Homo sapiens: one gene and its partners. The protein of the gene in region 6 interacts with the protein of the main gene of each other region in a pairwise test. Each region holds a gene or a part of one and is shown on either strand. Other genes may lie near its edges. The genes, in order: GPR75-ASB3, SPTB, ZHX3, PLEKHB1, MAP3K2, SH2D2A and NAA16.

Region 1 (4,038 bases), on a different chromosome or scaffold from region 6:
TTTCAGAGATAATGTGTGAGACAGCTAGCCTCCAAGATGGCCCCCAATCATCCTTTCCTCCTCCTATTTGTGCTTTTGTACAGTCTTTCCATATTGAATCAGGGCTTGTGTATGTGATCTGCGGAGGTGACAGCCATAATTTCAATGAACCAGGTCACTGTGACTTCCGTCTTGTTCTCTCTTAGACCTCTTCCTCTGAGGGAATCAGCTACCATGCCATGAGGATACTGCAGCCGTCCTGTGGGGAGGCTTTTATAGAGAGAAACCGAGGTTTCCTGCCAACACCCAGCCATATGAGTGATCCATGTCAGTGAGCCTCTGTGGAAGTTGATCCCCTGGCTCCTGTCAAGCTTGCTAATGACTGTAGCTTCATCTGATATTTAATGCAACTATAAGAGAAACCTCCAAGCCTGAACTGCCCACCAAGCTACTCCTGAATCTCTAACCAACAGAAACTCCAGAAGCTGCATGGCTGTGCCACGCCAGTCTGCACGCTCCAGCTGCCAGACAGCATGTCTTCCCCTTTGTTAATAATTTCTAATGGTTTACTTTCAAGTTAATTTACTCTTTCCTATATCTTTCATTTGGCTATGGAGTCCATGTAGTAAATTTTTCATTGCAGATTATTGTATTTTTCCGTCTTTTTTATAGTTTCTACTACTCAGCTGAGAATTTCTACCTTTTCATTTTTTCCAGTGTGTTAGCCTCATGAAGCACCATTATAAGAGCTGCTTTCAATTATCTGATATTTCTAATATCTGGACCATCTCAGGACTGGCATCTATTAATTGCTTTTTCCCATGAGATTTAGTAATGTTTTATCAGTTCTTCATATGTCAAATAATTTTAGGTTGTCTCCTGGACATTGTGAATGTTATGCTGTATAAATTCTGAGTCCTGGGTCTTGTTATAATCCTTTGAAGAACACTAGCTTTTTGGTTTGTTTATTTCAGCAAGCATATAACCTAGTTAGGTTCAAACTGCAATTTCTGTTTTACCTTATACAGTGGTTCCAACGTCAGCTCAGTTCTCAAAAGCCTTGACTTTCCTGCTTTAAGCTTGGACCCATGAATGTGCCACTCAGGGTCTAGCCTGAGACTCTGATGATAGTTCAAATCTTACTTTCAACATTTTGGGTTGGCTGGGTGCTGTGGCTCACGCCTGTAATCCCAGCACTTTGAGAGGCCAAGGCAGGGAGATCACCTGAGCTCGGAGTTCAAGACCAGCCTAGGCAACACGGCAAACCCTGTCTCTACAAAAAATACAAAAAAAAAAAATTCCAGGCATGGTGGCGCACAACCGTAGTCCCAGCTACTCAAGAGGCTGAGGCAGGATAATTGCCTGAGCCCAGGGAAGTCGAGGCTGCAGTGAGTCATGATCATATCACTGCACTCTGTGTGGGCAACAGAATGAGATCCTGTCTCAAAAACAAAACAAAATAAAAAACAATTTGGGTCTATCTTGTGCATTTAAAGCTTGGGGTAAGTCAGGAATATGCAAATTCATATGCACAATTAGGGTATCCGCTTCTCCAAGCTCTCTCTTCTCCAAGATTCCCTACCATTCTCTGGCCCACAGGGTTCCATTTACCTGATTCCTCTGACCAGAAAAACAGGCTTTCTATTGTGTCTATGTTTCAGCTTCCTCAGTAAGTTTAACAGGATCTATTTAGTGCTCTCTATATTAAACAACTGGTCAATTAATGTTACTGACTGATATTAGCTGCTGGTGCCACTGGTGCTACTCAGCTCCAGATCAGGGTTGGCCCTCAGGGCAACACAGCAGAAGAAAAAGAAGGCCAGGCGCGGTGACTCATGCCAGCACTTTGGGAGTCCGAGGCAGGCAGATCACTTGAGGTCAGAAGTTTGAGACCACCCTGGCCAACATGGTGAAATCCCATCTCTTTTAAAATACAAAAAGTAGCTGAGCATGGTGGCACATGCCTACAATCCCAGCTACTTGGGTGGCTGAGACAAGAGAATCACTTGAACTCGGGAGATGGAGGTTGCAGTAAGCCCAGATCGCGCCACTGTACTCCAGTCTGGGCAACACAGCGAGACAGTCTCAAAAAAAAAAAGGAAAAAGAAATGGGAAAATTCGTTTTCATGTGGGTCACTTCACCAAGTTACCACTCTCTTTCATAATCTATCTGCTTTTGTTCCTTTGAGAGTCCTCAGGTAGTTTCTTTTTGAATTTTGACCACAGTTTTTTGTAGTCATTAGAGAGAAAGAGAGAGGCTGTAGTGGAATTACTCCACTGCATGTTAAGAACTTCTTAGCATCACTGAAGTTTACACAGAAAAAAATTCTACAGAGTAACTGAGACATAAAAAGCAAACCAAACTGTGGAGTTCCTTAAAAATACAACTTTGGAGTACTTGTGAAAGGAAAAGAAAAAAAATCATTTATATCACTATTCAAGAATGAGATAATAGCTCCTATTTGCAGTTATCCCAGACACAGCAGAAAAAAATAGGAACCTTCCCTTCCATGAGTCTCTATAAAAAAATACAAAAAAAAAAAAATACATTAAAAACGCTTCTTTGCCAAAGACAGCAGAAGATAGTGAAGTAAATGCCACTAAATACTGTTTTTCCCATTAGGTTTTAAATTCCTAAAGGATCGTGTGTATGTTTCAGCTTCCTCAGTAAGTTTAACAGGATCTATTTAGTGCTCTCTACATAACAAAATGGTCAATTAGTGTTACTGACTGATTTTGTAGAAATCAAAGGAGAAAAAAGGGTCTGCCCCCTAAAATTTCAACTAATCTTGGAAAATCCAGAAACCTATTTAAGATCTTTCCCACCTAATTTCATTTATCCGAATCTACAGAAGGCATGAAACATACTGCCCAGCTCCCAAGGAATATCATTAATTTTAAGGTGTTTCAGAGTTAACAGGGGTACTACATTATATGGCTTAATTCAAACTACACTTATAAGGTGATGAGGCGTGAGCTTAGCTGCTGTGACCAGAAGGACCAAAAACATTGTTCATCCAAAAGATAAGATGAAGGCCAAAAAAGACCATCATCATATTGAACACACACACACACACACACACAGGCGCGCGCGCGCGCGCAATCCAAAATCATTATATTCTGGTCTAATAAGAAATGTTCAGTTCTGTAACGGACTTAAGATTTGGGATAGAGAAAGGCAACTAAAAGTTATCAGTGCAACCTCACTGAAGGTCAACTAAAGTAATTAGGGCTCTTCTGTTTAAAAAGACAAAACTTAACGGGGTACACAAGAAAATCCTATGAAATCATGAAAGTTATACATAAAGTGGGCCCCAGATACTCAGATTAACCAAAACCCAAATATTCAAACTAAAATGTATAAGTTTAAGAGGCCGGATGGGGTGGCTCACACCTATAATCCCATCACTTTTGGAGGCTGGAGGCAGACAGATCACTTGAGGCCAGGAGTTCGAGACCAGGCTGGTGAAACCCTATCTCTACTAAAACGTGTAAGCTTAAACTTGAAACAAATTATAGTGAACTACTAATTTTACATGGCAAATGTTAAGAGATAGTAAAGGCTGAAAAGCTTAGTAAATAATTTCTTGATAACTACTCAAATTAAATAGAGATTCATAATAGTGAATTCAAGAAGGCCAATACAATTTGAGGTATGCCTGCAACCTCTTCTGTGTCATTAAACACAATAGCATCTATCTTCATAACTTATTCCATTATTGGATGACCAGATATTACTCAATATGGCTGTTCTTACACACAGCTTTATTCTTAGTGTTTTAAAACTGTAAGAGTGTTATAGACAAAGTTACTGGCCAGACACTAACAAGGCAGCAGTAATTCTTCACTTAGTCTATTTCACAGAATTATGACAGATTAGAAAAATAATTAATTTGGGGGCGTTTAAAAACTTAATTATTTAGACTCACATCCAAAAATAATATAAAGCCAGGCATCGTGGCTCATGCCTGACATCCCAGCATTTTGGGAGGCCGAGGCAAGGGAACTGCTTGAGCCCAGGAGTTCAAGACCAGCCTGGGCAACATGGAGAAACCCCAT
Region 2 (4,038 bases), on a different chromosome or scaffold from region 6:
TCGTAGCTCACTGCAGCCTTGAACTCCTGGGCTCAAGCAATCCTCTGGCCTCAGCCTCCTAAACAGCTGGGACTACAGGTGTGAGCCACTGTGCTTGGTCAGATTTTTTAAATTTTTTTTTTTTTTTTTTGAGACAGGGTCTCAATCTGTCACCCAGGCTGGAATGTAGTGGCACAATCATGGCTCACTGCAGCCTCAACTTTCCTGGGCTCACGTGATTCTCCCACCTTAGCCTCCTGAGTAGCTGGAACTACAGGCACGTGCCACGATGCCCTGCTTTTTTTTTTTTCTTTTTAATTTTTGTAGAGACAGGTCTTGCTATGTTGTCCAGGCTGGTCTCAAACTCCTGGGCTCAAGCGATCTGCCCACCTCAGCCTCCTAAAGTGCTGGGATTATAGGCATGAGCTGATGTTTCCAGCCTAATTTTTTAATCAACAAATATTTCTGAGCCACTCCCCTCCATGTATAAAACATGGCTCTAGGTGCAGAGGTTTTGTTTTGTTTTGTTTTTAAGCATGAGACTCAGTTCCCCATTGCAAGAAGCTTGAACTAACAGTGTAGAAGGCAAGTTGACAATTACAAAACAAGATGATCCACCTGTAAGAAAGGAGTGAAAAGGGTACTGTAAAAATACAAAGGAGGAAGCAATCAGCGCTACCCCAGGACCTGGTAAGGAAGAGGGGCTGTCAGGCAAGGTTACAAAGAGAAGGCAACATGTAAGTTTTACAGAGGAATCCACAAGGAAAATTTTAAGGATAATAATAAATGTTAAGGCACCATCACAATCACACACACAAAAAGCCCTGAAAAAAAAAAAGTCAGAGAAAGAGGAAGTTCTTCACCCAAGGGCAAACAGCAAGAGGAAAGGAGCTGGAAGCAACCCAGACTCTTGTCATCCAGCTCAAGGAGATTTTTTAGCTGAAATAAAACATCGCATAATATTTACACCCTTCCCCACCTGAGCTTGGGCTACATGCTCTACAAAGCAAATTAAACATCACCTGCCTGTCCTCTAAAAGTCTACAATCTAAAAACAGGCACACTAATAAATGAACAAATTCAAGAACTTTGATGACGAACTATCACCCAAAGACAGTGTTCTGAAACAAACACTTCTCAAGTTCAGTTTGGCCCCCAAAATGAGGATAATAAATTTTTGCCCTTCCCTTTGGAGATGTTAAATACCAAGGGGAAATATTAAAATTGCATGGACGGGTTCCTTAAAAGATTATAAATAGAATTACTATGTGATCCAGCAATTTCACATCTAGGTATATGTCCAAAAGAAGTGAAAGCAAGGTCTCAAGGAGATATCTGCCCACCCATGTTCACAGCAGCATTATTCACAATAGGCAAGAGTAGAAGCAACCCAAGTGTCCATAGACAGATGGAGGGAGAGGGAATGGAGAGTTAGTGTTTAGTGGACACAGTGCTTGTGTTTTGGAAGATGAAAAACGTCCATCTTTTTCATGATGATGGGGAGGGATGATGGTGATGGCTGCACAGCAATGTGAATGTGCTTATGCCACTGAACTGTATGTACACTTAAAAATGGTTAAAATGGTAAAATTTATGTCACATATATTTGAGCAAATAATACACATATACAAAGAAAGTTAATAAAAGAATTTGTGATTATGTTCAAATAGGGTGCATGTATCTAGCCCTAATTTAGCAAGTTTGAAGAAGGGAGAGATTACTGTGGAGTGGAGTGTTCCAGGACGAAGACACAGCCTCGAACCCAAGTTCTGATGGAAAACACTCCAAATCTGGGAGAAATGGTCAGGACTCAGTAAGCAGAAGTGGACAAACTTAGTTTAAGTAGAGGGTTTGTGATGGAAAGTGGTAAAAGAGTAGAAAAAAAGAGACTGGTGCCAGAATAGAATGGCTCCTTAAAAGCCAACTTTATGAGTTTGGATTTCTACCTCTACCCAGAGAAGAACCACTGGTGGCTTTTGAGAAGGGGTGTTATATGATGAACACAGTGGTTCAGTGTGGGATGGTTTGGAGAGGGAGATCCTTAGTTGATAGAAAGTGGACTCCAGGTCGCTTAACTTGAGGGCTACCAAGGTGACTACAAAGTCTACTAAATCTGAAACCTAACACGTGGTGCTGCTAGCTTAAAGCTATGACTTTAAAATGTATCAGGCCAAATGCTTGCACATGAATGGAATTCTTCTCAAAGCATACACAGAAACTGTTGACAGTGGTACCTTCTTAGAAATAGGGCTGAAGTTAGGAGAAGACTTTTACTCTTCATTGTATACCCTTGTATAATATGGATATATGTTTTAACCACGTACATGAGTTTATTTTATAATTTAAAAAGTTTTTTAAATATGACAACCAGGAAGCATCAAAAAATATTTGGGCTTTAACCAGCCAATTCAAAACATTTCTAAAAATAAAGTGAAATATATTTCAATCTTGTTTCTCCCATATCTTAATCTCCATCACATAGTATAAACGTTGTGGGACTGATCTAAAAGTAACAGTACAAAGTACACAGCACATCTAAAGCTTCGCTTCAAACAGATGTCATGAATCATCCCAAAATAAAAACATCTCCTTTTTGGTGTATTTAAATGAAAAGTCTGCCAAGACTATTCCAAGTCAACACCTCGACAAAAACAGAAATTAAAAAAAAATAGCCCATGGTACATTTGATAAAATACATCACCATCTCAGTAAACGACCTTTTTGTTCATCCAGTTGTTCAGGCCAAAAACAATGGAATCATCTTATTCTTTTTCTCTCATCCTCTATATCCAAATCTCATAATCTCTATACTCAGAACCCAACTGCATCTCACCAGGACTATCATCCTGATCCATCCTCTCGTCCTGAACCACCGCAGTAGCTTTCATGGGACTCCTTGCCTCCACTCTTGTGCCCCACAATCAATCCTCCTTAGGGCCGCCAGAAAGATCTGCTTGAGACACAAATCCCAACAAGTCACTCCCCTGCCCACAACTTCCAGTGGCTTCCTATGACACTTGGACTAAAACTCAAAGGTCACAAAGCCTGCACCATCAAGACCCGCTTTTCTCTCCAGCACTGTGGTTAGCTCTCCCCATGACACCCTGCACTCAGGCCACACTGGCCTCTTTGCTATTGCTTGGACACAGCAGTGGCCCCACGTTGGGGGCTTCCCATTTGGTATGGTTTGTCTGTGTCCCCACCCAAATCTCATCTTGAATTGCGGCTCCCATAATCCCTGCATGTCGTGGGAGGGACCCGGTGGGAGGTAACTGAATCACGGGGGTGGGTTTTCCTGTGCTGTTCTCGTGATAGTGAAGAAGTCTCATGAGATTTGATGGTTTTATAAAGGGCAGTTCCCCTGAACATGCGCCTGCCACCATGTATGACATGCCTTTGCTCCTCCTTTGCCTTCTGCCATGATTGTGAGTCATCCCCAGCCATGCTGAACTGTGATTCAATTAAACCTCTTTCCTTTATAAATTACTCAGTCTCTGGTATGTCTTTATTAGGAGTGTGAGAACAGACTACCACTCAACCTGAATCTCTTCTCCCAAACATCCCATGCCTCTCTCCCCACTTCATTTGAGTCTCAGCCCAAATGAAGCCCCATCAGATAGTGTTTTCCCAACCACCCTACCTGAAATAGTAGAACCACCCTTCTTTCCCTTCATATTGCTTTATTTTTCTTTTTAGCACTTGAAATTACAATATATATTTTTGTCTGTTGCTTGTCATTTAGTTCCTCTCTCCCCCAACTACAATGTGCACTCTACGACTTCAGACATTTTTGCCACATTCACTGTTACATTCCCTGGGCCTACAGCATGTCTGGCAAATTAAATGAGAACTCAGTAAATATTTGTTGAAGACTGACATACAAATCAAGGCCCTCAAGATCACTGGACAAAAAGAGGCTGCTGAAGTCCAAAATGAAGCATAAGCACAATAATGCCCAGTAAATTTGGGGTAAAGGAATGAAAAACCCAAAACATCAATTAACGGGCAGATGAACCCTTCATTTATCTATGGCATGCTACTGAGAATCCATTAATTCAT
Region 3 (4,038 bases), on a different chromosome or scaffold from region 6:
GAGCTGCCGCAGCAAGTGCCGCTGCTGGGCAGTCTTTTTGCAGCTCACTTTGCCTGGGAGCTGCTCTGCCAGTTTGTTTGACTCATCATCCTCAGGGTCACAGGCACCCAGCCCTGGAATCTCGTTCCTGCCATTGGCTTCAGTGACCCTCAGGTTCTTCAGGTTGATTTTAATGGGGCTGACTTTGCGCTCTGCCAAGATATGGCTGCTGGGCATTTCCAGAGAGCCATTTTCACCAGAGACCCTTAGCTCACTGGCCAAATCCTCTTCTCCACCCTCATCCTCAGCAGCCTCCTCTTCCTCCTGAGAGGCATTCTCCTCAGCCTTCTTGGTCTCCTCAGCATTCACTTTTTTCCGTCTCTCTGAAAACCAGCTATCAATTTCTCGTCGGGTCATTTTGGTTTCACTTCTCAGGCGGTCCAGTTCCTCATCAAGAGGAAGAGGGTTTTGTGCAAAACTGCTCTCCAGGGCTCTGAGCTGCTCAGGGGCTCTCTCCTTGTATTTGGTTGGTGTGAAGTCAGGAGTCTGGTGCCAAGATTGTCGTTTGGCAGAAGGGTGGGTTGCTAGTGTGGCTGTTGTCGGAATGCAGGTTACCTCAGGGACCTTGGACGATGGGGAGAAGGACACCTCTGGCACAGAGTCAATGATGATGGAACTGTGATCTCCAGGTATCATCGCTCTGGAGCCCTTCAAGTTCCGGCAGTGGTATCTACGATCACTGAACCATTTCCGCACCTCTCTGGTACTGAGGCCCGTCACTTTTGTGAGATGTTCAACTTCGCTCTGCCCTGGGAACTGGTTCCGACAGAAGCTCCCTTTCAGAGCTGACAGCTGTTCATGAGATTTCTTATTTTTGTAGATGCTAGCATCAAGGAAGGCTTGGGAGGTTATGCTGGGGCAGGCCGTGAGGAGCGACTGGGCCGCATTGACCACCTTCACAGCTGACGTTGTATTTGAACACACAGTGTTAATGGGTGCCACACCTGGCTGCTTGGGGACGGATGTCACCGTGAGGGGGAGAGGGGAACTTGTTGCTTGCAACCCATTGGCCATCAATGGCTGAGTGACCAGAAGTCCCCCTCCTGTACCCTCTGGCTGCCCCACAACGTGACCTGGAAGAGCGGCCTGGATGAGATGCTGGACATTGCCAGCACTGGCGACGAGTGGGGTATTTAGAACCGTAATTGTGGGCTGAGGCACAGACTGGATGACTGTATTGAACATCTTTTTCCGGGCATCCTCAATCTCCTCAGGGGACCAGCTGATCCCCTGCTTCAGCCTTTGGGCTGTGAACCAGATCTTGAGCTGTTCTTCTGGATACTTGGTCACCACAGTCAAATAGCAGAGCTCGGCTTTGGTGGGGTAGGGGAACTTGTGGAAGGAGTTCTTCAGGAAGCTGTTAGAGTCCATGGCTGCATTGTACGTTGGAATGCTGCTCAGGGGGATCATCACTTTGGGAAGGGCCTTGGCCGTGGGCAGTGGCTGGTGGACATGGTGTTGGGCATGCACTGGGGGCTGCTGCTGGAGGGAGAGGAACTGTGCTATGCCAGCTGGCAAAACTGGCACTGTTCCTATCAGGGGCCCGTTGGCGGCATGGGGGTTTTTTGCAGAGCTGGCAGATGCCTGGCTGACTGGAACTGCCCCATTGATGAAGGAATGGTCCCCCTCTCTCACCTCCATTTCTCCAGTCGACAGCTTTGGTAAGGCCTCACCCACAGGCTGGCTAGGGACATTCTCCTTGAGTGTATGAATTTTTTTGGCTTCAGCTTTGCCTTTCATTATCTTCATGATTGGAGTTTTGGTAATGATGATTTCTGCCTGTCCATCAGCCCCTTCAGCACTGGGCTCACCCGCTAGGTCAGGAGTGCTGGTGCTCTCAGGGATGCTCTGCTCCACAACCACATGATTGTCTGGCTTGGCCACGTTCCACACAAAGCTGGCTTCCCCGGAGTGACATGTGGCATTGTGCAAGGAAAGCCCCTCAGGGGTTTTTGCCAGAAAACTGCACCCACTGCATACAAAGGTTGGGTCTTTATTAAAGTCTGTGTGCTCTGAGTTCATATGTCCCACAAATTGGGTCATGTCATGGGATCTGAAATCGCAGTATTTACAGGAATATAAATAGCCATCTAAAGTGCTCCGATGCCCATTGGCCAGTGTAGAGCCATCAGTACTGCTGGGGTTCTGTGCTGCCTCACTGCTGGCAGCAGATGCTTCTGGGGGCAGATCCTGCTGGGGTCCTTCAGGCAAGGTCTCAGCGGGCTGGGCCTCCATGCTGGCATCTTGCAACACCACAGTCTTCACTGGGATCATGCATGGTGTGGTGGATTTCCTCTTGCTGGCCATGGTGACAATCACTGGGTGATCAGCAGTTGAGAGCTTGTCCCATAAGGGGCCTAACAATACAAGTTCCAGCTTCTCGATGAGGGCCAAAGAAACAGTTTCTAAATGCAGCTTTTTCAGTTGTTTGCAGAAAGCAGGTTTTCCCTATTCAATCTAAGGAAAGGGAGAAAAAAATGATTAAGTTCTCTTAAGTGCTTTCTGTATATTTCTCGGATACCCAGACACATTCCACTGCTTGCCTTCTACCATCTAGGTCTTTTCACAGTAAGTTTAATCAGCAACTTGGATATGAAGTCTAAGTTAGGAACCCCCTAATGACAAAAACTGGACCCTGAAGAATGACCTGGGGATGGTCCAATACCAACTGATAGACTTAAGCAACGTATTTTTGTTTCTTCCCCACCACCCCCTACATATCCCTGCATTAAGTAATTCAGATTAAAAAACAAAACGCCCTCTTTTTGGACCTCCAAATTAATTCTGACCATGTCAGAGTGAGAACAAAAGATCCTAGTGTAATTCTTGTTTACATTTTGGACCAACACGCGGTTTTCTTTTCATAGCCTTCCCGCATATGAGAACAAGATGACGCCTCTGTCTGTCCCAAGCCAGGCCCAGGGACCAAGTTAGCTGCAGTGTGTGAACGGAAGGGGTGGGGTGGGCGGGGGTGGCTAGGAAGACCGGCTGCTGTAAGAGCCAGGCCTCTGTAGCCTTTCCTTGCCTGCCGCACTTATTCCAGGCCACAGAAAAGCGATCACCTTACAGTTACTGGCTGTTATGTATCCCGGACCACTGTTACTGAGATGAAACCAAAGGTCAGAGGGTCAGGGAATCCACAGAACCAGTTTGTGGCCCAGCAAGCTATACATTTTCTGTGTACGACCACTCAAAGGGTGGTCTCACCTTGAGATCTGAGAACAGTTGGACTGCCTCCCCAAGTGGGTCCCTGACCCCTGAGTAGCCTAACTGGGAGGCACCTCCCAGTAGGGGCCGACTGACACCTCATACAGCTGGGTGCCCCTCTGAGATGAAGCTTCCAGAGGGAGGATCAGACAGCAACATCTGCCGTTCTGCAGTATTTGCTGTTCTGCAGCCTCCATTGGTGATACCCAGGCAAACAGGGTCTGGAGTGGACCTCCAGAAAACTCCAACAGACCTGCATCTGAGGGTCCTGACTGTTAGAAGGAAAACTAACAAACAGAAAGGACATCCACACCAAAACCCCATCTGGACGCCACCATCATCAAAGACCAAAGGTAGATAAAACCACAAAGATGGGGAGAAACCAGAGCAGAAAAGCTGAAAATTCTAAAAATCAGAGTGCCTCTTCTCCTCCAAAGGAACGCAGCTCCTCACCTGCAATGGAATAAAGCTGGATGGAGAATGGCTTTGATGAGTTGAGAGAAGAGGGCTTCAGACGATCAGTAATAACAAACTTCTCTGAGCTAAAGGAGGATGCTCGAAGCCATCACAAAGAAGCTAAAAACCTTGAAAAAAGATTAGATGAATAGCTAACTAGAATGAACAGTGTAGAGAAGACCTTAAATGACCTGATAGAGCTGAAAACCATGGCATGAGAACTACATGACGCATGCACAAGCTTCAGTAGCCGATTTGATCAAGTGGAAGAAAGAGTATCAGTGATTGAAGATCAAATTAATGAAATGAAGCGAGAAGTTTAGAGAGAAAAGAGAA
Region 4 (4,038 bases), on a different chromosome or scaffold from region 6:
TTGACCCTCTGTGTGTCCACAGTCCCCCAACCCCGGGCTGGACACAGAACGAGGCACAGAACAAAGTGAAAAATGCCTTTGTGCTTTGGAATCCACAAAGCCCTAAGAAGCTCTCTTATGTCTTTGCCCTTCCCTGTTAAGATTTCCAGTTGCAAAATGTCAGAAGCTCGGTCTCGGGCTTCTAGACCCACCTCTGACCAGAGTCATGACCTGAGCAAGAGCTATCCTGGGGACCCCTGGGACAAGCAGCCCCATGCCCCATACCCCTGCCCATTCTCAGTTCATTTAGTTCAGCAAACACTGAGCCAGGTCTCCCTGGGTGCCAGGACCTGCGTGGGGAGCCATAGCCCCCAGAGTGGTACAGGAGGCAGATGCTACACAAATAACCATCACACAAGTCAGAGATGAGAGATAAGAGGCCGGGCACAGTGGCTCATGCCTGTAATCCCAACACTTTAGGAGGCTGAGTTGGGAGGATTGCTTGAGCCCAGGAGTTTGATACCAGCCTAGACAACATGGTGAGACCCACTGTCTCCAAGAATACCTACCTGGCTAATTAAAAATTAGCCAGGTGCAGTGGTGCGTGCCTGATGTTCCAGCTATTTGGGAGGCTGAGATGGGAGGATCACTTGAGCCCAGGAGGTTAAGGCTGCAGTGAGCCATGCCTGTGCCCCTGCACTCCAGCCTGAGTGACAGAGCAAGACCCTGTCTCAAAGACAGAGAGAGAGAAGATGCAGGCTTAAGGTAGGGAGAGGTCTTTGCCCTTGAAGAGACCTGGGGCTTGGCCTTAGAAGCTTCCAAGTAATGGGCCCAGTCACTCATTTCCCTGTTCAGCACGTGTATCGAGCTTCTGCTATGCATCAGACCCAATGGGAGGCAGGAGGTGAACAAGACAGAAAGAGGTCCTGCCCTCATTTCAGGGGGTAGACAAGAAAAAGGTGGTTGTAACACTAGGGACTGAGGCTGAGGGGACTTGGGAGTCTGTCTGGGGCTTCTATTCCCAGCAGGCTCTGGGATCAGCCTGCCTAGTGCATCTGGAATATCGTACAGGCTCCATCCTCCGCCGCTGGAAGCGGAACTGGTTTGCCCTGTGGCTGGACGGGACCCTGGGATACTACCACGATGAGACAGCGCAGGACGAGGAGGACCGTGTGCTCATCCACTTCAATGTCCGTGACATAAAGATCGGCCCAGAGTGCCATGGTGAGCAGAAGCCCCTTCCTCTGTGGCACCGTGACTGTGGGCAGAGCCTCCCGCTGTCTCCGAGAACACTTGCTGTTGGAAGTCTTTTTGCAGCTTTCAGAGGCATTTCACAGACATTGCTTCTGAGCCTCTGTCAACTCCAATTCAGTTTGGTGTGAGTTAAGAAATAGGTCCTTGGCTGTGTGTGGTGGCGCATGCCTGTAATTTCAGCACTTTGGGTGGCTGAAGCGGGCGGATCACTTGAGGTCAGGAGTTCTAGATCAGCCCGGCCAACATAGCGAGACCCTGTCTCTTAAAAAAAAAAAAATTGGTGAGATGCGGTCACATATGGCTACTGGGGAGGCCGAGGCAGGAGAATTGCTTGAGCCCAGGAATTCAAGGCTGCAGTAAGCTATGATCCCAGTACTTTGAGAGGCATGTAGATTACTTGAGTCTAGAGTTCAAGACCAGCCTGGGCAACATGGCAAAACCCCGTCTCTACCAAAACAAAAACAAACAAAAATTAGCCGGGCATGGTAGTGTGTACCTGTAGTCCCAGCTACTTAAGAGGCTCAGGTGGGAGGATTGCTTGAGCCTGGGAGGCAGAGGTTGCAGTGAGTGTTCATGGCACTGCACTACAGCCTGGGGGACAGAGCTAGACCCTGTCTCAAAAAAAAAAAAAAAAAGAAAAAGAAAAATCAGTCCTTTAGTGCCTTTCTCCTCTGTGCTGTCTCAGAGGTGAGCCAGGCACAGTTCCTGCCCTCCAGGCGCTCGGTACTGGATGAAGACGAAATGAAATTAGGAGGCCCAGAGAAGCGAAGTGGCCCAGAGTCACAGCAAATCTCCACATTCCTCCACCAAGGCCCAGGCCACAGTTCTAACAGGGTAACTGGGAGGTGTGCTGAGGGAAGCCTCAGCATGGAAAGGTTGGAAAGGTTGGAAACGTAGAGTGGAATCCCTCAGAGAGTATATGGGATCAGAGGAGGTTGGCAGTGGCCAGTAAACAGAGCCCAGAGAAGTCAATTCCTATTCCTGTCCCTGCTTTACTGGGGGGACCTGGGGCTTGTGCCTGTGGAAACCCATATATGTGTGTCTGCTTCCAGATGTGCAGCCCCCAGAGGGCCGGAGCCGAGATGGCCTGCTGACTGTGAACCTACGGGAAGGCGGCCGCCTGCACCTCTGTGCGGAGACCAAGGATGATGCCCTGTGAGTCACTCCCAGGAGAGGATGGGGTGGAATCTCGGGGAAAGTTACCATGTGCCCCCTTCTCATTGGGCCTTCTGGTTCTCTGACCGTAGGAAGAGGGCACTAAGGCCAGTCAGCAAGGGAGTCTTATTGGAGGCGGGTGGAGTGGATTTGAAGGGCTTGTGGTGACTGGCATGGCACACAGTGAACTCCTCATGTGGTCTACAGTGAACTCAGGATTGCTGAGGGGGAGGTGTGCACACCTGCCTCAGGTATCTGGTTCCTGGTCTTTAGCGGCCTCTGAGGTGAGCCCTCACCTGAGGGTGATGCAAAGCAGCAGAGCAGCCTAGTGGCACCCTTGCTCCCTTCTTAGAAGATGCCCTGGTGGGGGACTCTGATCTGAGGGGTAGCCCTGGACCTGCCTACAAAGGCAGTCAGCTGCGTCCCAGGCAGGGGCACCCCAATGTCAGATGCATATCCACGTGGCCAGCCTGGGTGTGTCCTTCTCAGGCACCATCTGCTGGCTCACATTCCGTCCCTTCCTACCCTCTGGCTAAGGGGTACATGGCCTTTGCGCTGGAGGAGAGTGAAAGAGATGGGTGTGTGGGAGTGGGGGAAGCTGAGCTCCAGGCAGACAGCACAGAGCCGCCTTGTCCAACCCAGCCAGGTGCCATGGCAACCAACAAAGGCCCCATTGTCCCGTGTCTGCTGGGCCTTCCTGAGGCTCTGGGGTCAGAGCTTTGGGGAAGTGTTTTGTTTGTAGATTTGGGATGTGGAGGGGGACTGGGCTACAACACCCACCCAAGAGTGTCAGAATCTGACATCCCCTGAGAGACCACCCAAGCCCAACCGTCCACTGTATAGATGAGGAAACTGGAACTTCTAGAGGGGACGAGAAGAATGAATTAGCCTAACTTAGTGCTCCATCCATGTGACTGGGGCAGGGGAGGGGTCACTTTTGTCTTCCTGAGGGAGACAAGAGATCTCTCCTTTCATGAGAGACTTGGGCTTGAGGCTGGGTTGGAGAGGAAAGTCTAAAATGTGGGGGCCCAATTCACCCACCCCCAAACTCCCTCCTCATGGTCTGGTGGGATTTGCTTTGCAGAGCATGGAAGACAGCACTGCTGGAGGCAAACTCCACCCCGGTGAGTCTCCCGTTCTCTCCCCCTTTCCCCACCACCTCCATGTGCCATGGAATCATGAGTGACTCAGACTCGGTCTCCACCTGCCAGAAGTTCTCAGTCTTATGTGGATAGGTTTCTGCAAACTCTGATGCCTGAGTCCCAAGTGTTCGGGGAAAGGATAAGGGAGAGCCAACTGGTGCTCAGAGGAGAGAGAGAAGCCTCCATGGAGATTTGCTGGAGGGAGTGGCACATGAGCTGGGGAGAAGGAACTGTCTTTTATCGAGCAACTATTATGTGCCAGGTGTGGTGCAGGTATCATTCCAGCTGCTCCTCACAACAGTCCTGTGAAGTTGGGGTTATTGTTCTCTCTCTGCAGATGATAAGACTGAAGCTCATTCATCCGCACAACAAATATTTACTGAGCTGCTACTATGGGCCAGGTGGTGTGCCAAGTGCCAGGGATCAGAGGTGAACCAAGGAGATATGGGCTCTGCCCACCTGGACTCAGCCTAATGAGAAGCCAGACATGGAACAACTAATTAATTAT
Region 5 (4,791 bases), on a different chromosome or scaffold from region 6:
CAATCCCAGGCACAGAGTAGGAAGGCAAAAAAATATTCATTGAATGATGGTTTCATCAATAAAAAAATCCCAATATCACTAATTTGTAATCATATATACTAAAATAACCAAAGATGTCAGAGATTTAATATCTAAGCAAGAGGAAAAGTCACCAATATAAAAGGAGAATGGCGAAAAAGAAAGAATAGCTACTATAACTATACCCACGGGATGTTTCTGAGGAACCCAGAGGTGAATGAAGTCCCCGGGGTGGTAAGTGAGGGAAGGGAGTGGAGAAATGAGCAGCACTATGAGGGGAAAAAATTTATCTCTAGATTACTTAGTAAACAAACACGTTTTTATTGAATGCCTGCTATGTGGTGACCCAGTAACTGTGGAGAACAATATAGATATTTAAGATTTAAATACTATCCTCCGGCGTTCTGAGACCCTCCTTTCTGTGGCATACAGGTCTTAGAATGTTAGATTCAAGAAGGTCTTAGATTTATGCATAAGTCCCCCATTTTTTAAACAAATAGAAGCAAACTGATTTTCCACTGACCTCTGTGTTTCTGAGGTGCACATCCTTGTTCCTGTGACTTTGACACCTCTGTTAATGGGTCTGTAATAAAAATTCCTGGAAGAAACCCAGAGATATTTTGACATTACACAACAGTTTCTCCCTCAGTCTCTGCCCCACAAGTGCCAGCTCCCTTGACCCTCAGAGCCCAAGTTGGGTAGCTCCTTACCTCTGGTTCGGGTGAGTCCCATTCCCATCTCTCTCATTTCAACTGCTCCAGTGGAAATGTGGTCTGGAATATGCATGAAAGGGGTGGATCCAGAATGTACGAAGAAACCAAGAAGAAGCTGAACAGGGAAGAATGGTACAGGAAGTTGTAAGGGGTATTTAAGGAAAGGAGAAGAGATGGGGCGGAAAGGTGCTTTCTGGATCAAAGTAGGGTGAAAACGTCGGGATGCAGGTTAGTCACACCACGGAGGGCCTCACCACTAGTCTGATTAATTTGCATTTTATCCTGTGGGAGATGAGGAGCGAAAGAAAGGGTTTTAGACTCTAGCTTTGGGGGTGGGGTGTCAACTCATGTCTCTGGGCTTAAGTTTCCACATCTGTTAAGCTGGAGAAGTAATACTTGCTGGGCTAACCAATGTACACAACCAGTCATAACCAAGTATCGATGGTGATAAGAACTAAACAGAAAACACAAATAACACTTAGCCAGTCTCCAAGGGGGTGGTTTAAGGTTAGGTGGCAAGCCTGAAGTAATTTCTAAAGTCCCTCAGGAAAAAAATTCTGAAACTTGAGCCACAAATTAAGAGGCAGACGGCTTTTCTCCTTGCAAATGACCTGCCACACAGTCCGTCACTGCCTCTGCTAGCTCTGCTACCCTTGGGCCCTGTCCACAGCCCACGTGGGAGACCTTTTCACGGGATCTACTCGGATGTCTGGGATCTGGCCACTACCGCAGGCTCGAGACAACCCAGGTGCGTATGCGCCGCGCACACGGAACAGCACAGGCTGCCCCGGGGCAGGGGCGGGGGCGGGGCCGAGGCCGGGGCGGAGCCAGGACTGGGAATCCCCGCGCCGTCCGGCCGGTGGGGGCGGTGGCCTGTGTGTGGGCGTGGCGGGCCTCTGCGCAGGCGCCGACCCACTCCCCTGGGCCGGGCGCGCGCCCGCGGCGGGTTCCGCTACCGCCGGGCGGAGGGGTGCGCGCGCACGAGCGAGCGGCCGTGACGTGCGCCGCGCTACGCCCGACGTCACGGGTCCGTGTGTAGTGGCTGCCGGGCTGCCTGCCCTCAGCGGCGGCGCCTGACGAGGGTGCCGCGGCCGCTGGGCGCAGCGTTCGGGGGTTGCACGGCCCGCGGCGGCGACGAAAACAACGACCAGGACGCTCGGCGCCCCTGTCCGCAGAGTCGCCACTCCCGCCTCTTCTCCGGTCTCTAGCGACGCGGGCCCGCGGCTTCCTCCTTTCCTGCCCAGTTCCCGCGGGCCTCGGGGTTGCAGCGGCTAGAAGTGCCGAGGAGCGCCAGGAGGACCCGGCCGGCTGCGAGGATTCACGCGCCCGCCACCCCGCCCGGCCCGGGCTTCATGTGAAAGAGGGACGGGCCTGGCCCCAAGGCCCGCGCCCGACTCCTCGCGCGCCCCTCCGGTCCCCGGGGGCCCTGCGGCAGCCCCCGACCTGGGGCCGCGGTGACAGGCCGCGCTGGGGCGGAGGGGCGGGCTCGGCGGGGGCGGCCCCTCCTTGGGCCTGCGGCTCTCTACGTCCCTGCGGAGCAGCCGGTACGTGCGTGTGTGCGTGCGCGCGCGCTTGTGTGTGTGTGTGTGTGTGTGTGCGCGCGTGTGTGTCGGGGGCCGCGGGCTGGGCGCCGGGAGGGGGGCTGGCGGCGGCCTAAGCGCCGCTCCAGGGGCGGAGATTTCGCTGGGTGATTGCCTAGCTGCGGGAGGGCGGACCTTGGGCCCCCTGCATCCAGTCCTAAAGCCCAGGTCAGCGCGAAGTAGGCTGCTGGGCTGTGTTAGCTGTCAGACACGTACCCTGCAGAGATTTTAGAAGAAAGGTTGCATCTGGTCTTGGGATGAAGCAGAAATGGTACATGCAGTAAGCGAAAAAGTGCTTGTCTTTGCACTGTCACAGTGTGGTAATCTTTTGATGTAAGGTTGTTTCCCCCTTTTCTCTTTACGGAATATTTAGGTAGCACTTAGGGTGCTCTTAGTCTGCGCCCGGCAGTTGTCATGCATTATCTCTCTTCATCTTCCCAGCTCAATGAGGTGGGTAAATTGCCCCATTTTGCAGGTGAAAACTTGAGGCTCAGAGAGATTAAGGCATTTGTCCAAGGTCATGAAGGTAGTAATCCAGGAAGGCTTGGTTCGAATATGCAGATGTCTTTTTGTAAGACTGTATTTCTCGTCTTGCAAAAAATAAATACGTTTAGAAAATGAGACTAACTGGGCAGTTTCTTTAATGGGATAAATTCTAAACACATAGACAGATACAGTTTAGTTTTCCCTAACGTAAGCTCTTCGATATCTTTTGCCAAATCATTTTCTTGGCTTTAAAAAAAATTTAAAAGATGGCTTCAGATACCTTTACTTTTTATGTACTAGTACTGGACAGAAAAAAATTATTCTCTCACAAAAAATAAATACATTTGGTAAAACTGCATAGATCTTGAAAAGTCACAAATTTACTTTTGTAGTTTGACCTTGATGCCCAAAGGGAACTCACAGTTGGGTTATTTGCTTGAGATTTCCTTGTTGCAAAATTTGTTGCTGGATTATGTGGCAATTTAGTGATTTGTTCGTTGTCTTATGCAATCTTTTTTAGTTCGATGTCAAATTTTAATGCGTAGAATATCGTAGGAAGTTTGATGGTGTGATTCTTTTTCATTTGTATGGAGTGCTACTAGTCAGTGTTTATAAGTTAACTGAAAATTCTCATTTTAGCATGAGTTTTGTATTTTTTAAAACTATGGTGAGAGGAAAAAATAAGGAGCCAGAGCTCTGTACTGAAAAAAAGTCGATACATTTCCTTTGAGTAATTGAAGCTCTATGCATAATTGCAAATGTTTAACAAATCTATTGATGCCCAGTTATATTACTCTGTAATTTTCCTAGTATATTATCAAGTTGAAGAAAATTTGTGGTCTTGCAGTCTCTGTGGAGAAAAGGTGAAATTACAAAGTTAACATGTGGATGGTTTACAGATTGATTTGTTGTTTGGTTAAAATATAAACATGTTGAATCTTATTGAATTATGTTGTATATGATATCATTATAGAATGGTTATCCATGTGCCTCTTTTGAGAAACTAGCTGTTAAAGGCTTATCTTAAATAATTGGATTGCATTAGAGACTGAGTCTTATAAGCAATGTTTTAGGGGGAGCTTTTGTTTCTAGTTTACTTTATTGGTACCAAAGGGTTAAACTAACAGGTGCTGTATTAAAATAAAGTCATGTTTGATACTCTGCATTTCCTACAGCGTTGGTTTCAGGTTGATTTTCTCTTTCCCTATAGAATTGGAGCTATTTCCCCCCACCTCCCACTTTTTATTATCAAACAATTTCAAGCATACAGAAAATTTGGTAATAGTAAACCACTTGTATCTTGACCCTCTAGATTAAACATTTGTTGTTATCTTGCCATATTTGCTTTATCTATAGGTACATGTACAGGCATACCTTAGAGAGATTGTGGCTTTGGTTCCAGACCACTGCAATAAAGGAAAAGAAGTGAGTCACATAAACTTTTTAGTTTCACGGTGCATATAGTTATGTTTACAATATACTGTAGTCTATTGTGTGCAATGGCATTATGTCTAAAAAAAGTATATACCTTAATTAAAAAATTATTTATTGCTAAAAATTTCTAAAGAAATTTGAGCCTTTAGGGAATTGTAATCTTTTTGCTGGTGGAGGGTCTTGCCTCCATGTTGATGGCTGCTGACTAGTAAGGATGGTTGATAAGGGGTGGTTGTTGAAGTTTGGGATGGCTGAGGCAATTTCTTAAAGTAAGACATTAGTGAAGTTTGCCGCATCGATGGACTCTTCCTTTCAGGAAAGATTTCACTCTGGCATGTGATACTGTTTGATAACATTTTACTCACCATAGAACATTTTTCAAAATTGGAGTCAGTCCTTTCAAACCCTTCATCAACTAATTGCTTATCACCTATCATCTAAGTTGCTTATCGTTGCTTTATCAACTAAGTTTTTGTAATCTAAGTCCTTTGTTGCTACTTCAATAATATTCACATCATCTTCACTAGGAGTAGATTCCATCTCAAGAAGCCACTTTCTGT
Region 6 (3,500 bases):
TAAGGACAAATGTAATGCTGCTCATCCTCCCGCTCTTACCCGTGGCAGACATCACTAATCAATCATGTGCTTTTTTTCTGCTGAGTTCAGATATGACCTTAACATCCTTTCCAATGCAGCACTCTAGGCAGCCACGACCAATGGATTGGAGTTGGCATGCAAGATGACACCTCTTTGCCATCCTTGCAATAGATGATGGCTGAGCTCCTTTCCAGCTTTGAACACCTATGGTTTATTCCATCCACATTTCTTGAGAAGTGTGCCAGGTGTGTGTGAAGGTCTCTGGACCTGATGCTCCAAGTTATCCTCACCAAGCTCAGACTTACCGCCTACTGAGGAGGCCCAAGGGGAAGCCATGCCTGTCCTCTGTCCTGAAGCACCTGTCTAGAAAGATTGTGGGGGAGGGTGTGTCTCCAGGCGGGTGGGGGCTGGTGGGGCAGGGGAGGGCCTTGCCCAATCACAGAGTTCTCAGAATGCAGCTGGGAGCCACCTGTATTCTGCAGAGAGAAGGACAGTTCTAGGTCACACCCTCTACCCTCTGCCTCCTAGGTGTACTTGCAGTCTCAAGACATCTGATCTGAACAGACTTTGGCTTCCAGAGAGGGTATCTAAACTCCTCTCATTCATTAATTCAACAAACATCTCCTGAGCACCTGCTCTGTGCCAGGCACTGGGCTGGGTGCTTTGGAAACAGATGGGTAAGTCCCAGCCCCTCCCTTCAGGGAACTCACACTCTAAACTAGGGAAGGGACAGAGAGAAGGAGATGGGAGGAGATGGATGTCTCAGGTGATCAGTGGCATGGCAGGTGTGTGTAAGGCACAGGGGGTGGCCTCTGAGAAGGGAAAGCTGGTCTTGAAGGATGATTAGAAAGTTGCCAGGCAGCGGGAGGATGAGGTTGCAGGAAGTTGCTATAGGCAGAGATACTGGCGGGTGCAAACCCCAGGAGGCTTGAAACCACTTGGTGAGTTTAGAGAAATGTGAATCATTCTAGGAGAATGGGAGTGGCTGGTGGTAAGGCTAAGGAGGTGAGACCCCCCACCCAACCCAAGTCTAGAGTGCTTCATGGGCCAGGCAGCTGCTTCAGCAAGACCATTCTGGCTCTTTGGTGCAGAGTGGATCAGAAGTGGCAAGAATGGTGGTTAGGAAACCAGTTAAGAAGCTCTTGGGAGCCAGGTGAGGTGGCTCGAGCCTGTAATCTCAGCTGAGGTGGGAGGATCACTTGCACCCAGGAGTTCAAGTTTGCAGTGAGCTATGATTGTGCCACTGCACTCCAGCCTGGGTGACAAAGCCAGACCCCAATGATGGGGGCTGGAGCTGGGGGAAGGAAAAATATACTTAGGAAGAGATCCAGCAGGAATGAGTGGCTTACTGGGGGAGTAAAGAGGGAGCTGTGCTGAGGGAGCCCTGGGATTCTGGCTTGGCTAGCTGGGTAGCTGGAGAGTTAGCAATCAGGACAGTGAACATGGGACCGAGCTGTTTGGAGGGCAAGGGTGAGAGCGCTGTTGGCCGTGTTGAGTTTGAGGGGCTCAGGGATGCTGGGGGGAACTGACCAGAAGCTTGGAAAAAAGTTTGGACGGAGATATGGACAGGTGACGTTAGCTCTAGGACAGCAGACGTTGGCAGGGGTGTGGGTGAGCGCGAGCAGGCTCAGGCTGAGCAGGGAGCCTGGGGCACCAGCAAGGAGGGAGGATGGGGAAGGGTCTGAGGAGGGAGGCTGGGGAAGGGCTTTGGGAGGGCCGCAGAGGCCGAGGGAGAGGGTGGGATGGCTGCTGGGGCTAACCCATGGCATGAGGTACTGACTTGAAGGGTAGGCAAGAAGACTTAGGGCTGGGGAGAAGGAAGAGGGAGACAGGGAGTACACAGAAGCAGGCTGGGAGAGCAGGGTCCCCCTCCCCTGAGCTCACTGAGATGACATAAGGGAACCCAAGTGCTCTTTTTCTCCAGGACAGCAGGGCCGTGAAGGCCAAGGGAGAGAGCCAGAGAGGCACGGGGTGGGGTCAGCCCCAGGTGCGTCTGAAGAGGGCCTGCAGGACAAGATGGACGCAGATCAAAAAAGCCTCGATGTGGGAGGTGGAGGGGCACCCTGCCTGGGGGCCTCTGTTTTCTGTGTGAGATAGGAGGGCATGGGGGCTTGACAAAGATGAGGTCTGAGCGACTCTGGGGAGAAGAGGGGGCAGCCTCTGGGCCTGGAGAAGGGAGGCTGGTGCCTGGATCATTCTGTTCTTCCCACATCACCTCACACCTCTGCCCCTTACCCTGCCCCAGGCATCCACTCTGAACACCTTCTTCACCTTCCCCCATCTACCTGCAGGGAGACCTTCTTGCACCTACCTTTCCCTGCATACCCATTTACCTGGCCTCCTGGGACAGGCCTGGACCAGCTCTTCCGTAGGACAGGGTGCCCAAGGGTGGCGGGTAGGCCCTCATCTTCCACTTCCACATAGATGTTGCTGGGGGCTTCCCCAGGGCTGCCCCGGCCCATGGCATAGAAAGCTATGGGTTCATCAGGCTCATTGTAGATAGGATTGGAGGGCTTGGGGCGTGGGGCCGGGCGGTGTCGTGGAACAGGGATTGTGTAGACTTCTGGGGGCAGCTGAGGTTTGGCGGGGATGGGAGGCTTGGGCCTGAGCAGCTGGGAGGGCTGGGAGAGAAGGTGAGGCCAGGGAGGAGTGGGGTGAGGGAGGCAGGGTTAAAGCCCCAGCCTAACTCCCAGCCTGAGCCTCTGCCCCCGCTAGGCCCCTCCTCCTCCCCGCTGCCTGCACCCCCTCGCAGGCCTGTCCTCCCACTCCCTCAGCCCCTGCAGCCCAATACCTCCTTCTCCCCGGCCCCCTCTTTCTGCATCGGGACTGGGGCTTGCCCCTGTTTGATGATTGGGCTGTACTGGGGGTTTGGGTCCTGGCTTTTGCTTCCAAAGTTTGATTCTTCGGTCCTCAGGGAAAGTCCTGCAGGCTCAGGAGTCTGCTGGGAAAGAAGGAGGTCTGAGGCACTCGGTGGAGCGTTGGGGTGGGGGAGGTGATCAGGAGGACAAAATAATCCAGTCTAAGTGGAGGATGGGGGAAGGGGGAGGAGCACAGAAATTTGGCCTGGGCTGGGTTCCCTGGATGAGGAAGAGGGGGTGGTGACGGCAGGGAGACCCAGGGTTGGATGGAGGCAGTGGTAAGCTCTGGTCACAGGCCATATCTAGCATTAAAGTTTTTCTTTTTTAAGATAGAGTCTCACTCTGTTGCCCAGGCTGAAGTGTGGTGGTGCAGTCTCAGCTCACTGCAGCCTTGACCTCCTGGGCTCAAGCTATCCTCTTGCCTCAGCCTCCCAAGTAGCTGGGACTACAGGCATGTGCCACCACACCGGCTAATTGTGTTTTCATTTCTTGTAGAGATGAGGTCTCACTATGTTGCCCAGGCTTGGTCTTGAACTCTTGGGTTCAAGTGATCCTCCCACCTCAGCCTTCTTGCGTCTTAGGATTACAGGCGTAAGCCACCACACTTGGCTGCATTAAACT
Region 7 (4,038 bases), on a different chromosome or scaffold from region 6:
GTAAGTTTCTAGTTATGGTCTTGCTGAAATTACTAATTCGTAAGTGCCTAGCAGCCTCTTCATAAGGGAAACAATTTACCTCTCACTGAGAATGTCCTAGTTAATAAAAATGTATCTTTCCTTAATAACAAGCAGAATGCTCTTAAAATAATGGTCCTCTAGGGAGTGTAACAAGCTAGTGATCTGTGGTTTTATGAAGGAAACAAGAGCCTGATTTAAACTAGAATGCTTGGGTATTTCACCTATCATCCCAAGGGCTTTATATTTTTCAAGGAGAAGATGAGGAGGATTTTCCCCAGAGATACAGCCATCAAGCCCAGGCTTAAAAGGGCATGAAAAACAAACAAACAAAAAACAAAAACAGAGCAAAAATTAGGTTATTTCTAAAAATGCTTGGGTATAATTCTAGTTCCAGTCCCCATCAAAAGCCACCCCCTAAAATTTAGCCTTCCTTGTGGGTAATCTCAGAAATTTCACGTGGGAAAAAGGCCAAAGTGACTGCCACGGTGCAGACATCAGGCTCACCTGACTACGATGCCTGTGGTTCTATACTGCGTCAGGATGGGAACAGTGGTGCCGATTGCCCCCACAACTGAGGGCTGCTGAGGACTGCCTCAGGGGTGCATTTGCGGCTCTTTTCCTCCTGTGGTCCATGTGGAAGGAGAGTGCTTCAGAGATGACAAAGAACAGGAAAACAAAAATTCACACAAAGGAAAAGAAAAGTCCCCTCACTAAGGCACATCACACAAATAATCCTAAAAGCAAGCAATAAAATAAGCCTGCAAACTGGCCATAGATTGTTATACAGAATACTGAATGTGAGAGCAAATATCCTGGGAAGACAAACTGGAGAGAGGCTGACTGCGGACCAGATCCTGATGTTTTAAAGGGGAAAGAGGTTGCCATCAGCTGTGTGTCCTCTTAGGGTGGTGATGAATATCAAAATAATGGCCTAATTAGGGAACATAAATTTTGAATTTATGTTAATAGCAATAATTGTTTACTAACAATCTTTTTCCTTCAGACAAAAATATATAGACATGTCAAAAGCATAATCACTTGAGGATCAGTAAAGCAATCCATTGTTTACAACTTCTGAATGTAAAGGTTAAAGATCAAGAATTTTTTTCACAATGAAGCTCCCAGAGAAGTTAGAAGAGGCAGATGATCCTGTGTAGAAATCTACCTGCTTTTTATCACCTTACAGTGAAAACTGAAGTCGAAATTCTAACAACTTACCCTTTCTACTTCATGACATTTTTTCAAGGCATCCCCGTATCTCCCCAGACGCTGATAAGCTGAAATGCATTCTGTCTGAAACCACATACACTGCATTTCATTTAGATTTTCCATGGCAGATGTTCCTTCCTGAAATGGAAGCATTCAAAACTATAGAGAGCAAACAATGAAAGAGATCCTAAAAATCATTTCCTCTTTACAACTAGGGCTACAGTACTATTATGACAATAGCAGCAATTAGCAAATATATCAGTATGTTTCCAAACATGGTTTTATACTACAATAGTCTCTCCTTATCCAAGGTTTCACCTTCCATGGTTTCAGTTACCCACAGTCGACCATGGTCTAAAGATATTAAAGGGAAAATTGCAGAAATAAACAATTCATACGTTTTCAACTGCATGCCATTCTGAATACTGTGATAAAATCTTGCACCATCCCACTCTATCCCACCCGGAACGTGAATCATCCCTTTGTCTAGTACATCCACACTGTCTGCTACCTAACTGTCACTTAGGAGCCATCTCAGTTATCAGATGGAAAACCCACATATACATAACGTCTTATTTACCCAGCTCTGCTGGGGTAGTCAACACTCTTCATAAAAAAGACTCCAAATTACTAAATCTTAGTTTTTAAACACCAAAGTTTTTATTTCAACTATTTAAGAAAGCAGTCATATGAAGTACTGCCTATCTTCTGCCTTTCAAGCAAAAGCTATTTCAGCCTTCCTTGCTGACTCGGGGTCACTGTTACGTATATTCAGCATTTATCAAATCTGTTAGTAATAGCTGCAGGCCTGTTTTTTGGTTTCCCAGTGTCCCTCCTCCATTGTCACTTTCTTTGTGCCCATGTGTCTGCTTCTATCAGCATCACCTGTTTCATGACAACTCTTCTACTTTAATATTTCTCCTTTGCAGTGGGCTGACAAAACCAAATAACTGAATTTGTTAATTCAGGCTCAATAAAAATTCTGAGGGGAGTGTGAGACATAAATTAACGAATTTTAAGTGCAAGGATACTCAAGTTTTGTCACAGTTTAGAAGAGACATTTAAAATATATTTTATATGACCCCAGGAAAGGATGCAAAGATACACTTATATAAATGATTTCAGTCTACAGTTTTTCCTCACATTTTGTGTATCAGTTCAATTTTCAGAACACATTAAACGTCTAAAAACTAGTTATCTCTGGGTGAACAGAATTATTGATGTATTTTCTGTCTTCATTATGGTTGTGTTATATTTTCCATTTTGTTAATGGTCACATATTTTTATAAGAGGAAATCTATATTACTTTTCATTTCAAAAAGTTTATCAACTAGAACTATCCAACATGTATCAGCAACTTTGTACAAAAGTTCTAAACTGAAAAATCTGCGAGAAGGAAATATGCGCCCTTCACTCATTTATTAGTAAGCAGATATATCCTGATTATTCAGGGTCATTTGCAGTTTTCTTCCCCTGCCTCATTATGTTGTTCACCACATATTATGGATTTGCCTGGCCAACAAACTAGTGTGCATAAAGTGAACAAGCTTGCCATACAGCATGGCAACTTGTCAAAAGTGGATGATCAGAGGCAGTTATGATGAGCAAGCTGAGCCACAGATTTTGGTGACTATTCTCCTTAAATAACCAACTCCTCTCACCTTCTTTCTCATTCTCCTGTGCCTTTAAAGACGCATCCCAGTGTCACTGGGCTTTCTGTTTCTTAAAAATCACTGAACTTCTTTAAGTTTTGCATAGATTTAGTATCGCTTATCAGAATTGTCTGGAACCAGAAATGTTGCAAACCTTCTCAATTTTGGAATATTTGCATTATACTTAGTGGTTGAGCGATCCCAAACCCAAAAATCCAAAATCCAAAATGCTCCAATGAGCATTTCCTTTGACCATCATACCAGTGCTCAAAAAGTTTCAAGTTTTGGAGCATTTTGGAATTTGAATTTTAGATTTGGGATGCTCAACCTGTATACTTCATATTTAATTGCATTTTACTTCCTATCGCTACCTTGGCCTTCCATGTGGTACTTTTCTCTGAAAACATAATTGGTTTTATGTTTATTCCTTGTACTCTCTTCTTAATTTCAAACCTGTGATATAGTGGAAAGGGCATTGAAGACTTTGAACCTAGTGCTATTTACTATGTGGTAGCTGGGACTATAGGCACATGCCACCATGCCCACCTCAGTTTTTCTTTTATGCTTTATGCTTTTGGTGTCAAGAAATGCTTCCTACCTCAAGCATAAAGAATGCTTCTTTATCCTGAAGATAAACTCCTATATATTTTCTTCTATAAGTGTAAGGTTTGCTTTCCATATTTGATCTTTAATCCACTTGGAACTGATTCGTGTACAGTGAAATTTTCTATTATATTAGATTATATTATAATTAGTTTATCCTAAGCTCCTTTATATTTTCTTGTATAAGTGTGAAAGGTTTGCTTTCCATATCTGATCTTTAATCCACCTGGAACTGATTCGTGTACAGTGACAGAGAGGGATATTGGAGGCTTTTTCCCCAACAGGAGTAACTAATTGTCCCAGCAATATATTTTCATCTCTGATTTTTACAGTATCTCTGGGTATATCCCATTTTCCAAATATGTGTGAAATCTGTTTCTGAGCTTTCTACCCTGTTCCATTAGTCTACTTATATTTTTAACCATAAACATGTATTATAACAGAAAGTTTATGTGGAAAAGGATATAAAGGGATGGTGAAGGAGGGAAAAGGGATGGATGTGTAGCCCATCTCAGGAAACTTAAATTCTTGAATGTCACAGAGACTAGTTCAG

What was found.
Region 1: the proteins of SH2D2A (region 6) and GPR75-ASB3 interact in binary tests that used the Homo sapiens proteins (3 or more experiments, as listed by UniProt).
Region 2: the proteins of SH2D2A (region 6) and SPTB interact in a two-hybrid assay, tested with the Homo sapiens proteins (one large-scale study listed by BioGRID and IntAct).
Region 3: the proteins of SH2D2A (region 6) and ZHX3 interact in a two-hybrid assay, tested with the Homo sapiens proteins (one large-scale study listed by BioGRID and IntAct).
Region 4: the proteins of SH2D2A (region 6) and PLEKHB1 interact in binary tests that used the Homo sapiens proteins (3 or more experiments, as listed by UniProt).
Region 5: the proteins of SH2D2A (region 6) and MAP3K2 interact in a two-hybrid assay, tested with the Homo sapiens proteins (one study listed by BioGRID).
Region 7: the proteins of SH2D2A (region 6) and NAA16 interact in a two-hybrid assay, tested with the Homo sapiens proteins (one large-scale study listed by BioGRID and IntAct).

Annotation. Positions count from the first base shown.
Region 1 is NC_000002.12:53,709,706-53,713,743, forward strand, and holds part of GPR75-ASB3 (GPR75-ASB3 protein), read right to left. Parts: intron 1-4,038. UniProt on the Homo sapiens protein: Probable substrate-recognition component of a SCF-like ECS (Elongin-Cullin-SOCS-box protein) E3 ubiquitin-protein ligase complex which mediates the ubiquitination and subsequent proteasomal degradation of target proteins. Recognizes TNFRSF1B.
Region 2 is NC_000014.9:64,869,510-64,873,547, forward strand, and holds part of SPTB (spectrin beta chain, erythrocytic), read right to left. Parts: intron 3,170-4,038; exon of another isoform or gene 2,813-3,169; intron 1-2,812.
Region 3 is NC_000020.11:41,202,571-41,206,608, forward strand, and holds part of ZHX3 (zinc fingers and homeoboxes protein 3), read right to left. Parts: intron 2,497-4,038; 5' UTR 2,347-2,496; coding exon 1-2,346. UniProt on the Homo sapiens protein: Acts as a transcriptional repressor. Involved in the early stages of mesenchymal stem cell (MSC) osteogenic differentiation. Is a regulator of podocyte gene expression during primary glomerula disease. Binds to promoter DNA.
Region 4 is NC_000011.10:73,649,503-73,653,540, forward strand, and holds part of PLEKHB1 (pleckstrin homology domain-containing family B member 1), read left to right. Parts: intron 1-1,050; coding exon 1,051-1,203; intron 1,204-2,285; coding exon 2,286-2,388; intron 2,389-3,472; coding exon 3,473-3,512; intron 3,513-4,038.
Region 5 is NC_000002.12:127,384,936-127,389,726, reverse strand, and holds the start of MAP3K2 (mitogen-activated protein kinase kinase kinase 2), read left to right. Parts: upstream 1-1,751; 5' UTR 1,752-2,275; exon of another isoform or gene 2,276-2,289; intron 2,290-2,487; exon of another isoform or gene 2,488-4,222; intron 4,223-4,791. UniProt on the Homo sapiens protein: Component of a protein kinase signal transduction cascade. Regulates the JNK and ERK5 pathways by phosphorylating and activating MAP2K5 and MAP2K7. Plays a role in caveolae kiss-and-run dynamics.
Region 6 is NC_000001.11:156,806,849-156,810,348, forward strand, and holds part of SH2D2A (SH2 domain-containing protein 2A), read right to left. Parts: intron 2,960-3,500; coding exon 2,813-2,959; intron 2,643-2,812; coding exon 2,355-2,642; coding exon of another isoform or gene 2,289-2,354; exon of another isoform or gene 498-2,288; coding exon 330-497; 3' UTR 327-329; exon of another isoform or gene 1-326. UniProt on the Homo sapiens protein: Could be a T-cell-specific adapter protein involved in the control of T-cell activation. May play a role in the CD4-p56-LCK-dependent signal transduction pathway. Could also play an important role in normal and pathological angiogenesis.
Region 7 is NC_000013.11:41,359,361-41,363,398, reverse strand, and holds part of NAA16 (N-alpha-acetyltransferase 16, NatA auxiliary subunit), read right to left. Parts: intron 1,369-4,038; coding exon 1,240-1,368; intron 669-1,239; coding exon of another isoform or gene 615-668; exon of another isoform or gene 524-614; intron 1-523. UniProt on the Homo sapiens protein: Auxillary subunit of the N-terminal acetyltransferase A (NatA) complex which displays alpha (N-terminal) acetyltransferase activity.